Linked DNA regions of Homo sapiens. The protein of the gene in region 1 interacts with the protein of each later gene in a biochemical or structural test. Each region holds a gene or a part of one and is shown in the gene's direction. Other genes may lie near its edges. The genes, in order: GPC2 and PTPRS.

Region 1 (3,908 bases):
CATCTCCATAGCAGTAGGAGATTGGATACTGCCCCCGCCCAACCCCCCAGGATCCCTCAATGACTCCACTTCCCTGCTGCTGAAGGCCAGATGCCTGGCTTGGCCTCTCTCACTGCCCATCCTCTACCTGACCTCCCAGCCTCACCTTCTGCCTCCTGACCGCCTCCTCCCTCCCCAGCTGTGATGGGCTCACTCTTGTCCTTGAATGTTCCCTCCACCCCTAACTGCCTCTCTATTTCCACCCCTCCCACGAATCAGAGTCAGCAACCTGGAACCTCCCTCCTCAGATCTGTGACAATCTCACCTGCTGCCACGTGGGGTCACCAACCCTAGGTGTAGGGTGGGGTATGTGATTTCTGTCTGTGCCCAGCACCAAGCCAGGCTGAGAGCAGCCACAGCGTTTGTGGAGGACACAGCCCCACTCTCTGCCCCCAGGTGCCGGTGTCTGAAGGCTGCAGCCAGGCTCTGATGCGTCTCATCGGCTGTCCCCTGTGCCGGGGGGTCCCCTCACTTATGCCCTGCCAGGGCTTCTGCCTCAACGTGGTTCGTGGCTGTCTCAGCAGCAGGGGACTGGAGCCTGACTGGGGCAACTATCTGGGTGAGGGGATTCAAGAAAGCCTGGAGCCAGGCATGGTGGCTCACACCTGTAATCACAGCACTTTGAGAGGCTGAGGCAGGAGGATCACTTGAGGCCAGGAGTTGGAGCCCAGCTGGGGCAACATAGCTAGACGTCATCTCAAGAAAGAAAGAGAGAGAGAGAAAGAAAGAGAGAGAGAGAGACAGAGAAAGAAAGAAGGAAAGAAGGAAGGAAAGAAAGAAAAAGAAAGAAAGAAAGAAAGAAAAGAAAGAAATCAGCCAGGCATGGTAGCGCCCGCGCCTGTAGTCCCAGTTACTCCTGAGGCTGAGGCAGGAGGATCACTTGAGGCCAGGAGTTGGAGGCCAGCCTGGGCAACGTAGCTAGACCGCATCTCTACCAAAAAAAAAAAAAAGAAAGAAATTATCAGGCATGGTGGCACACATGCCTGTTGTCCCAGTTACTCCAGAGGCTGAGGCAGGAGGCTCCCTTGATCCCAGGAGTTAGAGGCTGCAGTAAGCTATGATGATGCCACTATACTCCAACCTGGGCGAGAGAGTAAGACCCTGTCTAAAAAAATCCTAAAATTGGCCAGGCACGGTGGCTCACGCTTGTAATCCTAGCACTTTGGGAGGCGGAGGCAGGCGGATCACAAGGACAGGTCAGGAGTTCAAGACCAGCTTGGCCGGCTGGGCATGATGGCTCATGCCTGTAATCCCAGCACTTTGGGAGGCCGAGGTGGGTGGATCAAGAGGTCAGGAGTTCGAGACCAGCCTGGCTAACATGGTGAAACCCCATCTCTACTAAAAATACAAAAATTAGCCAGGCGTGGTGGCATGCACCTGTAGTCCCAGCTACTTGGGACGCTGAGGCAGAAGAATCACTTGAACCCGGGAGGCAGAGATTGCAGTGAGCCAAGATCATGCCATTGCACTCCAGCCTGGGTGACAGATGAGACTCTTTTTTTTTTGAGACAAAGACCAGCTTGGCCAATATGGTGAAACCCCTTCTCTACCGGAAAAAAATATATATATATACACGTATATATATACACACATATATATACGTATATATATACACACACATATATATATACACACATATATATACACACATATATATACACATATATATACGTGTATATATACATATATATACACGTATATATATATACACACACACACACATATATATATATACACACACACATATATATATATACAAAAATTAGCCGGCATGGTGGCAGGCGCCTGTAGTCTCAGCTACTCCGGAGGCTGAGGCAGAAGAATCGCTTGAACCCAGGAGGCAGAGGTTGCAGTGACCCGAGATCGCGCCACTGCACTCCATCCAGCCTGGGCGACAGAGTGAGACTATGTCTCAAAAAAAAAAAAAATCCTAAAATCCTAAAATTTAAATTTAAATTTTAAAAAAGTCTGGGATGGAGGAGGGTCCTGAGTAAGGCTGGGGGTGAAATGGAGAGGGGCTTTAAAGCCAAATTGGGGGGATACATGAGAGGGAGCTCATGTGAGTTTCCCCCAAACACTTTGCTGCTTCTCTAAGGCCCGAGTGAGGATTTTCAGGAACATCCTAGTTCAGTATCACCACTCATCCCATCCTTTCTCTTTCTCTCCCTCCCTTAAGATGGTCTCCTGATCCTGGCTGATAAGCTCCAGGGCCCCTTTTCCTTTGAGCTGACGGCCGAGTCCATTGGGGTGAAGATCTCGGAGGGTTTGATGTACCTGCAGGAAAACAGTGCGAAGGTGTCCGCCCAGGTACAGGGGAGAGAAGGGTGGAGGTGAGGCCCGGGGCGGGGACGGTGTGGGTGTCAGAGAGGCAGTATAGGGGATCTGGGAAGAGACTCTGGGGTCAGAGTGGGGACGCAGTGTGGTTTCCCCCCAGGGTGACTGTGTGAGGTCTCTTCCCGGTGCCGCAGGTGTTTCAGGAGTGCGGCCCCCCCGACCCGGTGCCTGCCCGCAACCGTCGAGCCCCGCCGCCCCGGGAAGAGGCGGGCCGGCTGTGGTCGATGGTGACCGAGGAGGAGCGGCCCACGACGGCCGCAGGCACCAACCTGCACCGGCTGGTGCGTGGGATGACCAAGAGTTGGGGGCGGGGGGGCCCGGGGCCGGGGATGGTTGTGGGGGTCGCGCTCCAGCTCGCCCCGCCCCCTCTCGCCCGCCCAGGTGTGGGAGCTCCGCGAGCGTCTGGCCCGGATGCGGGGCTTCTGGGCCCGGCTGTCCCTGACGGTGTGCGGAGACTCTCGCATGGCAGCGGACGCCTCGCTGGAGGCGGCGCCCTGCTGGACCGGAGCCGGGCGGGGCCGGTGAGCCTCGGGGGCGTCGGGGGGCAGCAGGGGGCGGGACCGCGGCCGGGAGGGGCGGGGCCGCGCGCGCTAGCTGGCGCTTCGGGGCTGCTCTGCTCGCAGGTACTTGCCGCCAGTGGTCGGGGGCTCCCCGGCCGAGCAGGTCAACAACCCCGAGCTCAAGGTGGACGCCTCGGGCCCCGATGTCCCGACACGGCGGCGTCGGCTACAGCTCCGGGCGGCCACGGCCAGAATGAAAACGGCCGCACTGGGACACGACCTGGACGGGCAGGACGCGGGTGAGACCCCTGCATCCCTGAGCCTGAGCCCCGCCCACTGCCCTGAAGCCTCTCCCCTCTCCTGGTAGTTCCCGCCCGTGCCTCTGCTCTTAGCGTTCATTGATTAATTCACTAATTCATTCAACGAGCATTTATTGAGCGTTGCCCTGAAAGACTGGGGGTAACAGATCAATGAGGGGGTCTGTATCCTTTCAGGCCAGTAGGGGAGACACGAAAACATTCTTAAAGAACAGTGGGAAGCCCCTTATAATGGGCAAAGGGCAGTGGGAAAATGGGGGAGGGGGCAATTTGGGGGAGGCTGGGAAGCCAGGGTGGTGGGTGACATTGAGCTGGCTCCGCAGGGTGGAGTTTGCCAAACAGAGAAGCAAGGCACAGACACTCATTGTTTTCTTCTCTCCTTCTATCTGTCTGTCTCTGTCTCTCTTTGTCACTCTTCCCGCACCCCTCTTCCTGGCTGCTTTCTGCTTCTGTGTACTTCTGATTTTTCTGTTTTTTCCTGTTATCCTCTCTCCCCATCTGCCTGTTTTGTTTTTTTTTCTCTCTGTCTCACTGTCTCCCATCATGATCTCTCCCCCCATGTCTGCTGTCGGATCTCTCTCCTTCCTTCTCTCCCTGCCTTCCTGTCACTCATGGTCTTTCTCCCTTCCCCAACCCGGCATCCACCTGTGTCTCCCTCCCTTTCCTCTCTCTTTCTGTTTTTATCTCAATTTCTTTTCCTCCCTCTGTCTCCCTCTGC
Region 2 (3,908 bases), on another chromosome or scaffold:
ATGGACCCTGCTTGGAGACACAAGTCCATTTTCCCCCAATTTCCACCATGGAACAGGGGGAAGCTTCGTGGATGCCAGGGATTTCGTGGTAGCATCTGGGTGGGGAGACCTGGAGCCATCACTGTGCACCCATTTTTTTCTTCTTTGGGTCGCATAGAGCCTGGGGCTCTGCCTGGGTTTCCCCAGACCTGGTACCAGTCTGGAGGCAAATCTATCTCTGCTCATCAAACGTCTTTCTGGGAGGTGACTTGGTTTCCCCTTCTGCCTTCGGGGTTGGCGTTGAACAGCGGTTCACAGATGTCTGAGGGCAGCGCACACCTCCACTTGCCAAGATGGGGAGACCTGTGGCTTCGCTGATTATTCCAGCGGCTGCATGGCCCCAATACAATAGTTAGTGGGATGGCCGGAGAGGGACGGGCAGGGACGGTGTGACTTGGTGGTGCGACGTGGCATTTCTACCCGAGCGCCCCGTGGCCCCGCGTTCACCTGCTTTCTGTGACGGTGCAGCCGCCGTGTGCGTGGGGGAAGAAGCGGGGCGTGGAGAGAGTTCGGGATGGGGGCGAGCGGGAGGGAAAACCCTAAAAATAAAAAGGGATATTTATAAACCCAGCGGGTTTGGGGGATAATTGACAAAGCTTAATGTTTTTCGGCTGAGAGCAATTCCTTCCCCCTGCTACCCATTAAGCTCCATTTGCAGAGTCGGTCGGAGCCACGGGAAGATCTTGAGATGAGCTTTAGGTTTGGCGGGCGCAGTGCTGACCGCTGTAGCCCCCTTCTGGGAGGGTCTCGTACTTTCTGGAAGGAGACAGGGGTCCCAGAAAGGGGCACTCCCCAGCTCTCCTCTGCATCCAGGGTAGGCTCCTGGCTCACCTTCCAATGGGTGGGTGTCCTCTTAGAATTTGCAAGGAGGATGAGAACCCTTCTCGGGCAAAGCCTGTGCAGGTTGCCCTTCCTCCGTCCTTCCCTGCGGCAAAAGATGCCCAGGGAGGGGAATTTGAAGAGAGACCCTCCCCCCCACCACCCGCCGCCGCCCCACCCTCCAACCGCTCACCAGGCAGAGTGGCTCAGCCTCCGGTGGGGACAGGAGGAGAGGAGATTAAGACATAACTGCTGTTCCTCGCAGGATTCGTGTGGCAAGCTGATACAAAACAAAACAAAAAAACCAAAAATTCACCATGGATTCACGGACCAAGGCACGTATCCGGGGCTTGAAGGTTTCAAGGGCTTTTTAAACTGTGAATTTTGTCATTTTCACACCTTACCTTGCTCTGGAATCGGAAAGCTGCCAGCTTGTGGCTTGCGGGGCAGAGGAGAGGGGATGCTGGAAGGGGATTGAGGCTCAAATGCATGTCATCTTATCACCAGGTGACATTCTGAATTGAGGAAGGGGGACACGGAGAGAGGAAGTGAAGTGTAGGGGATGTGATCGAGGGAAAGGGTGGCTGTTGTCTCACGCAGAGAGTGGCAGCCCCAAAATGTCTAGGAAACAGGTGACACCTGGGTCTCTCTAACCCTGAGGTTCAAGAGTGTGGAGTGTGTGGTTTCCCCCCCGCCCCCCCCCCTTTTCCTTTAAGGAAAGAAAAGACTCTCAACCAAAAAGGGAAGAAAAAAAAAAACCCGACGTACCATTTCTGTCTTGTCTCTGGCTGATATTTGAGAAGCGCTGGGGAGGGGGTTGTGTGTGGGGAATTTGAAAAATCAATTGGCTTACACTTCTCCAAAGGCGAAAATTAACGGGTAGGAGTGATTCACGGACAGGCCCTCCACTTTCACATCGCTTTATTTTTGTCTCTCTCTTTTTTTTTTTTCCTCCTCCTCCTCCTCCATGGAGCTGCCGGTCCCCCAACATCGTGGCCTGGCCAGACTGGACCTTGGGGCTGGTGCTATTCTGGGCTAGCCGTGGAATCCCCTCTTCTGTTCCCCGGAATCAAGGCACCCTCTGCGCCCCGCAGAGGCCGAGGGGATATTCCACATCTGAAAATAAACCCAGGTTTCTGTGCGGCTTCCTGTTTCCTTCTGATTCCCGCGGATCCCACCCTGGTTGGGGGTTCAGAGCCTGGATTTTTGGATCATGGGGACTCCCTCCTCCGGTCCCCATCGCCGTAACTGGGGCTGGATCACAAATGTCCCGTTTCATGGGGACAGATTTCATCTCGTACTCTTTATGTTATCTGGGTGGCCTTGCTCCTTTTAAGTTGTTTTTGATCTTTGCCATAAGCCCCTTATAGGAAGGGCCAGCTGTCTCCTGTTCCCCCTACCTGGAGAACTGAAAATTCCCCTTTTTCTCCCAGATCTCACCTGCCTGCCTGCCTTCCTTCCTTCCTGGATGACTTCCCCTCTTCCCTTTCAGTTCTCCGTGCAGGAGCTTCCTCACTTACAGAATGAGGTTACCCCTCTGGGTTCCAGGTCAGAGCCCTGACTTGAGCCACCCTCCTCACTTGAGCTGTGCAAACTAGGGCGGGTTGCCTGACCTCTCTGTGTTCTCTCATCTCTAAGATCAGTACAGTCGCAGTCTGCGTCGCGGCGAGCCTTGACATGAGATGCTGTGGGTAAACATGCCTCCCCTGGCTCTCAACGCGTCCGCAGTCAGTCGCATGCATCCTTCCTTCCGCTCCTGGACACCCAGAGGGGTATCCGGCGGGCGGAGAAGCCATGGCTCTGGAAGCCTGGGACCCTCGGATGAGGCAGGCTGTGGGGAGAGAGGCTGGGAGGATGGCCCATCGTCGCGCTGTCACGTGGGTAATTGAGAGTTTGCGGAAATTCAGGGGTTCTGGGGAAGCGAGGTTGGCGCGTCTGTGTGTGTATAATTTAATGCCGCTTATAATTAACCCCCGTGATCAGCAAATGAGGGGATGTCGGGGGGATAATAACAGCTGCTCCGACTATTTAGAGTTGGCGCCCCGTGCCAGGCCCTCTGCTAAGTAAGCAAGTCAGTAGCATCCTTGTCTCCTCCAACCTGCCGTCCCCTGTCAGCGGAGTTGCTGTGATCTGAGCCCTATTTTGCAGAGAGGGAAACTGAGGCACAGGGAGGGGCCTTCACTGGCCTGAGGTCACTTCACACAGCCCACAAGCTGTTGGCTGCCACAACCTGGATTCCTAACGCCTGGAAGGAGCTCTGCCCGATTGTCAGGGATGTTTGTTTGGACAGCAGTCCATCTGCTGCGGGGGCCACCTGAATCGCTACAGAGACACCCCCCGCACACACACACCCCAGGGCTCTTGACTGCCTTTTCTCAGAGGTTAAGAGCAAGGATGCTGGACTGAGGCTGCATGGGGTTCAAATCCCGGCTCTGCCGACTTGTTGGCTGTGTGACCTGGGGCAAGTTGCTCAACCTCTCTGTGCTTCCGTCTTCCTCATCTGTCTATGGAGAAGAGTAACAGTGCCCACCTTGAGGGATTGTTAGGAGGAAGAAATGAGTTAACGTGTGTAAGCACAGATTCAGAACGGCACCTAGAATGTAGCTGCCACCTCTATTCTGTTTTTGTTATTATTTTTGACAACATGGGAGCTACACTGATATGTTGAAGGACCTGCCCAAGAGGGGCTCTCCAGTGTCCACCCGCGCCCCGCTACCCCGCCCTCAGCCCCCCGATGGGGTCCAGCACCAGGGAGATGTCAGGATGACTCAGCCACTGCAAACTGGGGCGTTCCCCTTCACTGGCTGCTTAATCAAGGCCGCCCCACTTCTGCGGCAGGACTGGGCGACTGGCGGGAGCTGAACCACAGGGGGCCTGGATGGTGGACAGGGAGGACACGTGGCTGCCTTGGGAGCTCCAGGCACTCCAGGGACTCCACATGTGGCTCCCAACTTCCAGAGCCCCTGGTGGGCCCGAGTGATCACCAAAGGGGGGAGTTTGGGGGGGATTTGGGGGTTTAACAGCAGTCATTTGATGGGCACTCAGGAAAG

Evidence for each region.
Region 2: the proteins of GPC2 (region 1) and PTPRS form a complex in vitro, tested with the Homo sapiens proteins (one study listed by BioGRID).

What each region holds. Positions count from the first base shown.
Region 1 is NC_000007.14:100,170,525-100,174,432, reverse strand, and holds part of GPC2 (glypican-2 precursor), read left to right. Parts: intron 1-435; coding exon 436-598; intron 599-2,215; coding exon 2,216-2,346; intron 2,347-2,507; coding exon 2,508-2,654; intron 2,655-2,754; coding exon 2,755-2,894; intron 2,895-2,996; coding exon 2,997-3,172; intron 3,173-3,908. UniProt on the Homo sapiens protein: Cell surface proteoglycan that bears heparan sulfate. May fulfill a function related to the motile behaviors of developing neurons.
Region 2 is NC_000019.10:5,333,918-5,337,825, reverse strand, and holds part of PTPRS (receptor-type tyrosine-protein phosphatase S isoform 1 precursor), read left to right. Parts: exon of another isoform or gene 1-369; intron 370-486; exon of another isoform or gene 487-578; intron 579-870; exon of another isoform or gene 871-964; intron 965-1,051; exon of another isoform or gene 1,052-1,138; intron 1,139-1,262; exon of another isoform or gene 1,263-1,331; intron 1,332-3,908. UniProt on the Homo sapiens protein: Cell surface receptor that binds to glycosaminoglycans, including chondroitin sulfate proteoglycans and heparan sulfate proteoglycan.